Linked DNA regions of Homo sapiens. The protein of the gene in region 1 purifies or fractionates together with the protein of each later gene. This does not show direct contact. Each region holds a gene or a part of one and is shown in the gene's direction. Other genes may lie near its edges.

Region 1 (3,816 bases):
CTAAGACTTGGCATTGAGACTACAAGCCAGTAGTCTCTTGATGAGTGAGGGGCTGTGATTGGAAGGACTGTGGTGACAGCAGCAAGGAGAAGGAGAGCCATATAGCACGGATCTTAAAGGAGGTGGGCTTCACTTTTGTTCTTGTTCTTCTGTGGTCTGGAAGTGGCAAAGGGAGCTAGTGCCCCTCCAAGCCTTAGCTGGGTGCTGTGGGAGAACAAGCAGCCTCTTTTCAAGAGGAGGACTCTGAAGGACTCAACCTGGGGGTAGCAGGTCACACATACGTGGGGTTTTGTACAAAGAATTAGATGGAATCTGGTAAGGTAATTGCATCTGGAAGATTTTCTGTGTATAATTAACACTTTGAAACTCTGTCTTCCTAAAATTTCTCCCATTTTATGTAATTTAGGTGTGTTTATCATTTAACCCTCAAAGCACATTGGTGGCGACTGGAAGTATGGACACAACAGCCAAATTGTGGGACATTCAGAATGGCGAGGAAGTTTACACCTTAAGAGTATGTCAATAATGTTAATAAGCCTGTTATTTGTGTTCATTCTTATTTGTGTTTTTGTTACAAAATGAGCTCTAAGTTGGAGGTTGTTGAGTTGCTGGTTTTCAAATTTTAGTGGTGAAAGAGTGTCCCTACTGGTTTCCTGGCTATTCCAAAAGACTTGGGTGGAGGTGCTGGGGAAGTCCAAGGAGCTTTTTATTTTGACTAACTTTAGTCTGCAAAACACATAAACTATATCTTAGAACCCATCACCATCTCTCTGGCTAAAAGGAAAGCAGGTGGAGGCTGGCACTTTTGGAAGAGGCAGAACTGGAGAACCATGACAAGAGAATCCTTAGAGCAATGACTGTGAGCACACTCTCCTCTGCCCGCTGGTCTTTCAGCCATCCTGTATCACAAAAGTCTGAAATGACAGAGGGGCAAGTGACCAGAGGGGAAAAGGCCAAAGGGCTCTGCCCACAGAGTGAGTGCTGTGGGGCATGCTCTTGTGTGTCACCACCATGTGCCCAGCACCTCCCCGCCATCTGTCACTCTCCCCTTCCTCCCACCCTCCCCTTCCTCCCACCCTCCCCTTCCTCCCACCCTCCCCTTCCTCCCACCCCAGCCCAAGTCACTGCAACAAAACTAGAGTGACCCTATGTTGTAATCAGCAGGAACAGCCAGATGGGAAATTCAGTTTCCTTGTCCTTTCAAAATTATAAGTACATTTTTAAAAACATGATTTGTTTCCTCAGAAAGCTTTTTCTAAGCAAGTTAAAACATGGACTGCAAAAGAAAAAAAATCACCATTTTAAAATAACAGTAATGGCTTTTCTTTCTTAAATCTGAGTATCTAGCATTATTAGTGTAAGTATACTCTTTCTGTTCTCAGTTCTTTTTTCGTTTTTTTTTTAAATCATTACTATCTCTTCCTTCAGGCAAATGTGCAGGGAAAGGTCCCCATTAATGCCACACTTTCAACTAAAATGACTCCTTTTACAGACGTGCCTAAGAGCACTCAATGGGAGGGGTCCTGCTTGGCACACCTGTCTGCGCCAGAGAGTGAATTTGTTTTGCGTACTTAGAATTCGAATATTCAACTACATTTCATTTTGTCCTTTGAAATCAATCAGAAAAATCAAGTTATAATTCAACTTTTCTAATTCTTTGTATTATTTAAAAGTATACTTATGTTAATTTACTAAAATAATGAAGGAATCAAGGGATATATGTACTCCAACCAGGATCCCCTTATCAGAGTTCCAGAATCTGCTGTGGAGAGTGGTTTCTTCCCATTATCTTACAGTTTGATTCACTAACACTAGACAGTAACCAGCTGAAAGTCAGGCCAAAGGCAGGAATTTATCAATCGATTTCATGTCAAGTTATCTTAATAATTTCCTTTTTAAAAGTAATTAGTTTTATTTCATACACTGTTTACTTTTGCATACCATGTGTTATTAGCCCATGGCATCCCCTGCTCTGTAGTGTTTCCAAGGCAGTGTAAAGGACGTCCTCTAGTTTCCCCAAATACAACCTCTTTCTTTTGTTTTTAATCAATATTATTAAGTTAAATGAACTAGCTGTGTGTAAGTCACTAATTTTTAGTAAACTCACAGTATTGTGCAGCCATTACCAAAACCTAGTTTTCAAACCTTTCCATCACCCCAAAAAGAACCCTGTGCCCACGTGCAGACACTCCCCATCCTCACCCCAGCCAACCGCTGACCTCCGTTCCTAGAGCTCGGCCTTCTCCAGCATTTCCTTTTAGACTATGATATTGTACGCTTGCAGAAATTGTTTTATCTGCAGGTATACTTGACAGTATCTGCTCTTTTTCTAGGGACATTCTGCCGAAATCATCTCCTTGTCATTTAACACCTCAGGAGACAGAATCATCACGGGGTCTTTTGATCATACCGTTGTAGTGTGGGACGCTGATACTGGAAGGTAATTCTTAGTTCTTAAGAATTGTTTTAACCTGGATCAGGGGGTTCAGAAAACCCTCTGTTATTTTTTAGTTTAAGCTACTATCTATTAACTCTGCTTTGGATTCCATAAAAATAGGACATATTGAAAATGTAAATTAATTCATTCTTTAATGATATTTCTGATTCACAAAATATGTGCATTCTTTGAATTCTGAGCAAATAATGACAAACAGCAACATAAAAGGAGAATGTTAGCAATAGTCTGGTTATATAGCTATTATTTATTTCATGGATAATCAGATTTCAATGGCTTGTCATTATGTTAGGCAGGAATATCATGTATAAATAAAAACTCTTAGTTAATTTCCCAAATTAATTTAGTCCAAGAACTTCAATTTCCTTCCTAATGATTTTTGGTCCTAGTTGCTAGGAAGTTAACTAAATTAGCATATTTGTGTTGGAAAACTCTACTCTTGGATTTGTCTGTGATTTAATAGAGGGGCTAATTATCAGGGGTGCCAACCAAGATGTATGCAACAAGAAATGATAGAGGAAGAAGGACCTTTCAGTTACTTGATGTGTAGTTTCTGAACAACCAGGGGTGCACTCACCCGGTGTAAGACTACTTCTTACGGCCTTTACTATTTGTTACCCATGTCTTTTTGAAATGTTGCCTTAAGTAGCATTATTTTGATAGTTTAAAATCTAAGTACATTTTTGTTGAAATGAAATTATTTATTTAGTTAGTTAGTTTTTGAGACGGAGTCTCGCTCTGTTGCCCAGGCTGGAGTGCAGTGGCGTGATCTCGGCTCACTGCAAGCTCCGCTTCCTGGGTTCACGCCATTCTCCTGCTTCAGCCTCCCGATTAGCAGGGACTACAGGCGCCCACCACCACGCCTGGCTAATTTTTTGTATTTTTAGTAGAGACGGGGCTTCACTGTGTTAGCCAGGATGGTCTCTATCTCCTGATCTCGTGGATCCACCTGCCTCGGCCTCACAGAGTGCTGGGGTTACAAGCGTGAGCCACCGTGCCCGGCTGAAATGAAATTATTGGTAGCTTCTTTTTGAGCAATAGTAGAGCCATATTTGTCATCAAATATATTATTTTGTAAAAACCAGATTTTAGATTAGCTTACACAGATGGGCTTGGCCTCATTATTCATGTGCATATACTGAAGTAAGATATCTTTCACTAGTTTTAATTATTTTTGTGTTGTAGGAAGGTAAATATCTTAATTGGTCATTGTGCTGAGATTAGCAGTGCCTCATTCAATTGGGATTGCTCTCTAATATTAACTGGCTCTATGGACAAAACCTGCAAGGTGAGCAAAATAAATAAATATCTTTGCTTTATATTGTGTCTATACTCTTTACTGTGTCAGATATCCATTGTAA
Region 2 (3,816 bases), on another chromosome or scaffold:
TGGCAGTGGTGGTGGCGGTGGCGGTGGCAGCAGCCGGCCACCAGCCCCCCAAGAGAACACAACTTCTGAGGCAGGCCTGCCCCAGGGGGAAGCACGGACCCGAGACGACGGCGATGAGGAAGGGCTCCTGACACACAGCGAGGAAGAGCTGGTGAGGGCCTGGCCAGGGGCACGACTGGGACTCGACTGTGCTCCTACTCTCAGGAGGCCAACAGGGGAATGGGCAGCCTGAGCTGGTTGCCCCCACTGTGAACTTCCTGTTCTCTCCTTCCCAGGGGTTCTGGTCCTGGGGGAAAGAGGGAAGAATGAGCAGGGGGCACTTGCCTATCTCAGACACCATCAGAAGTCCCACTGAGGCCTAGGGCAGACCTCCCCCAAATGCGGGCACATTCTGGCCTCCGGTTTCCACATGAGTTGGAGAATGGGAGATTCGGACATAAGGGAGCACACACGGCCTGCAGAGCTTCAGAGCAGGGCTGGGGTGGCTTGTGGAGGCCACAGCCAGGAGGTGGGTTTTTCTAAAAGCCATTGCTGCTTAAGCATGAAGCAAAAGCTGTCTCATAAGGGGGTGAGCTCCCCGCCTGTTACTAGAACTATTCAGGCTGAGGCCGGCAGGCCATTTGACAAGGAGCTTATGTTGAGTGGGAGGGTGGACCAAACTCTGAGTCTGTGGGATATGGGTTGTACACTTGCTGCTCATTTACTTAATGAGCGCTCATTGAGCACCAAGACCCAGATCATACTCTCTAACTTCACATAACCTTAACAAGAGCCCTGTACTATGCAGAGTATTCTGTTCCCACATTTTACCCTGTGAGGAAATCGAGGCTCAGAAAGGCTGAGTGGCATGCTCAGGGCATCAGCTCGTAGGGACTGAGCCAGGGTTGGAGTCCAGACTGACTTGCTGGATCTGCAGCTTTCTCCTTTTCAGCACTGCTGGGTTCTATCGTGAGAACAGATGGGCTCATGGCCATGACGGTTAGGAGGTCTGCCTTATGCTAGCTCATCTCTCCTTTGAGCGTAGCCTGATCCTTCATCTTATTTTCTCAGGCATAGCAGTGTCCATAAAGGCCCTAACAAAGACTTGGATGCCCCCAGAGATGGGGAGCTCACCAGTCTATAAGGCTTTCAGCCTTCTCCAGTGCAGGCTCTCTGCACAGAAATGGGGCTCCTGCCACTCCCAGAACACCCTTCACTGGCCTGTGTGGGGTCCTCAGACCACCCTTCCAAGTTCCCAAGCCAGCTTTGTTGGCTGGTCCCATAGTCATTCCCCTTGGCTGTTCCTGCGTCTTCTGACTGTGTCCTCTAGATGCCCTCTGGACCATGAAGTTTTTCTGGACAAATGGCTCAGGGCAGGACTCAGAGCTGGCAATGAGTGATGTGTGGTCTCTCTTACCTCCTCCCTATCAGGAACACAGCCAGGACACAGACGCGGATGATGGGGCCTTGCAGTAAGCAGGTACAGGGGTCCTGTCCTGATGGGCAGAGGGTGGGGAATCAGTGAAGTGGAGGTTGTGCCTTTTCCCTGGATTGGGCAGGAAGTGTCACGAAGCATACCTGGCCAAGTAGCACTGACTATACCCAAGAATGAAGTCCCCTCCATATCTAGCCATCCCGTCACACCCCTTCATGCTTGGGGCTTGCCATGCTGAGGAAGCAGGTGCCGTAGATGGGCCAGGCGGGCCCACCTAGCAAGGGTTCCTTCCCTCAGCACACTCAGCCATGTTGCCTGTCTCTGCCCTTGAGGAGCTCCTAGTCTGGTAGAGGAAGACATAAGCCATTACCACCTAGTGTGAGCAGGATAACAATAGAGCGAGGCCAGGTCATGGAAGAGATGATGTGTAGCTGAGCCTGCTAGTGATTGAGGGAGCAATGTTCCACACCAGGGGAATGGCCTTAGCCATACAGAGCTGTGACAGTCCTTGGTATGTGGTGAGGCCAAGAGCCTCCTGTGGCTGCAGTGCCCCCCTAGTTGGTAGAGGACTCTGCTTATTGTCAGAGGGTGATGATTGTGAAGGGCCGTATGTGTCAGGCTTAGGGGCTGGGATTTGATTCTTTCATGGGGAGGAAATGCCCTGTGTGACAGGAGCTGCACCTGCTTTCTCTGAGTTCATCTTCAATCCCACAAGCTGATGATTGTACCAATATAATAGATGTGGAAACAGACACTAAAGGGTGCAGGGAGATAAGGTAGTAGTTGGTGGAGCCTGGATTTCAGCCCAGTGGTGTGTGGCTTCAAAGCCCACTCTCTGGCCACTGTTTACCATCTACTCTGCCCTACCTTAAAGGAAAGCCAGGCCACACCTGGCTGTGCCTACTACTCTCTGACCCATTCCCTTGGGGTGGCTTGGGTGGAGGAAGGTCTCAAACACTAGTGTTTCCAGGGAGGTGTCTGGATAGATGACACATTTATGCTGTAGTAAGATATCCCACCAGCAAAGGCTTCCAGAAGAGCTTTAGAAAATTGTACATATGCAGTCTTCTTTTGGAACTTCTTGGTTTGTTTTGCCTGGGATGCAAACAAACCTCCATATCCAGCCATCCTGCTACACCCCTTTGTGCCTGGTGCTTTCCAAAGCTTGTTAAAATAGTTCACAGGTGAGTTATATGGGCTCAGGTGAGGAAATGGAGGTTCAGAGAGCGGGTGAGACTTGCCCAAGGTTACATGGCCAGGAAATTATGAGGCCACAGCCAGAGTGCAAGAATCTCTCTGTCTCCAGACATCATTCCACCCTTTCTTCCCTACCCCTTTTATCAGCAACAGGGTCTCTTCCTCTCAGCCTTAGTCTCTTCTTTCTCTCTCTCTCTTTCTCAGCCTGACAGGAGCAATGGCCACCAGCAGGTGAAGGGCATCGCTGCCCCAGGCCTCAAGCCGGGCACCCAACCCTGGATGCCACCCCCCAGCGGGTACCAGAGGAAAGCTGGCAGCAGGCGCCTCCTCCCCCAACGCATCCCAGCCAGTGCCATGTCCTCTGCAGGTGGAGTTACTGGCCTACTCCTTCCCCATGAGCCCTCCCTGTCTGCACTGCCCAGGCCAGAGGGTAGAGCACAGGGGTTTCCCCATACTACCTCCCCTCCCCAGGACACTCCCAGGCTTGGGTTTTTTCTATAGGTTTGGCGGGGGGCCACAGGGAGGGGACCCTGACAATAAAGAGATTGGATCCCAACCTGTTCTGAGATGGGATGGTTTGTGTTTTCTCATGAAGATATCCCGGCCCCTCTGCCAACCAAAAAGCTGGTCTAGGGTGCCTAATACTGATCCATCTGGACCTTAGTGTCCTCAGTGGTGATTAAAATGGCCAGTGGGGCCACTGGGGAGGGTTGGATATGCTGGCCCATGAGCATCTTGCTGGCTGAAGTGTCAAGCAGTTGTGACCCACTTGGTTTACCCCATAGTAGGTCAAGACCTTATCTCTTTCCCCAGCTTCTAAGTCTGGTCTTTCCCAGCTCTTAAAAGGATTCTAGAGTCTGCCAGTCTCTACCTTCTCTCTTCTGGCTTAGGACACTATAATTTTTTCATTTGGACGTTGTCCTCCCACCAGCCTCCCAGTCTTCTGCCTCTGCCCTGTACCATCTCCCAGCAGCCACGCAGTCTTTCTGAAACGTATCCCTTCCCTGCCTAAAATCCCTTTACTGACTCTTCATCATCAGGACAAAACCCTACCTCCTGAATGTAGGGTGTAAGATCCTGCTTACTCCAGCCTCTCCTGTTTCTTGTCACCACCCCTTTCCTGCCCCTGACACAAACCCTACATCTCAGTCTCACAAAACACACAAGTTCTTCACACTCCGGGCAGGTTTGGTAGCAAGGAATAG

Evidence for each region.
Region 2: the proteins of DAW1 (region 1) and RALY purify together in Homo sapiens (affinity purification with mass spectrometry, with the first as the bait; one large-scale study listed by BioGRID). This does not show direct contact.

Annotation. Positions count from the first base shown.
Region 1 is NC_000002.12:227,902,596-227,906,411, forward strand, and holds part of DAW1 (dynein assembly factor with WD repeat domains 1), read left to right. Parts: intron 1-406; coding exon 407-514; intron 515-2,333; coding exon 2,334-2,440; intron 2,441-3,640; coding exon 3,641-3,743; intron 3,744-3,816. UniProt on the Homo sapiens protein: Required for axonemal dynein assembly and ciliary motility in ciliated organs, including Kupffer's vesicle, during embryogenesis. Facilitates the onset of robust cilia motility during development.
Region 2 is NC_000020.11:34,077,095-34,080,910, forward strand, and holds part of RALY (RNA-binding protein Raly), read left to right. Parts: coding exon 1-151; intron 152-1,410; coding exon 1,411-1,455; 3' UTR 1,456-1,459; intron 1,460-2,815; 3' UTR 2,816-3,816. UniProt on the Homo sapiens protein: RNA-binding protein that acts as a transcriptional cofactor for cholesterol biosynthetic genes in the liver. Binds the lipid-responsive non-coding RNA LeXis and is required for LeXis-mediated effect on cholesterogenesis.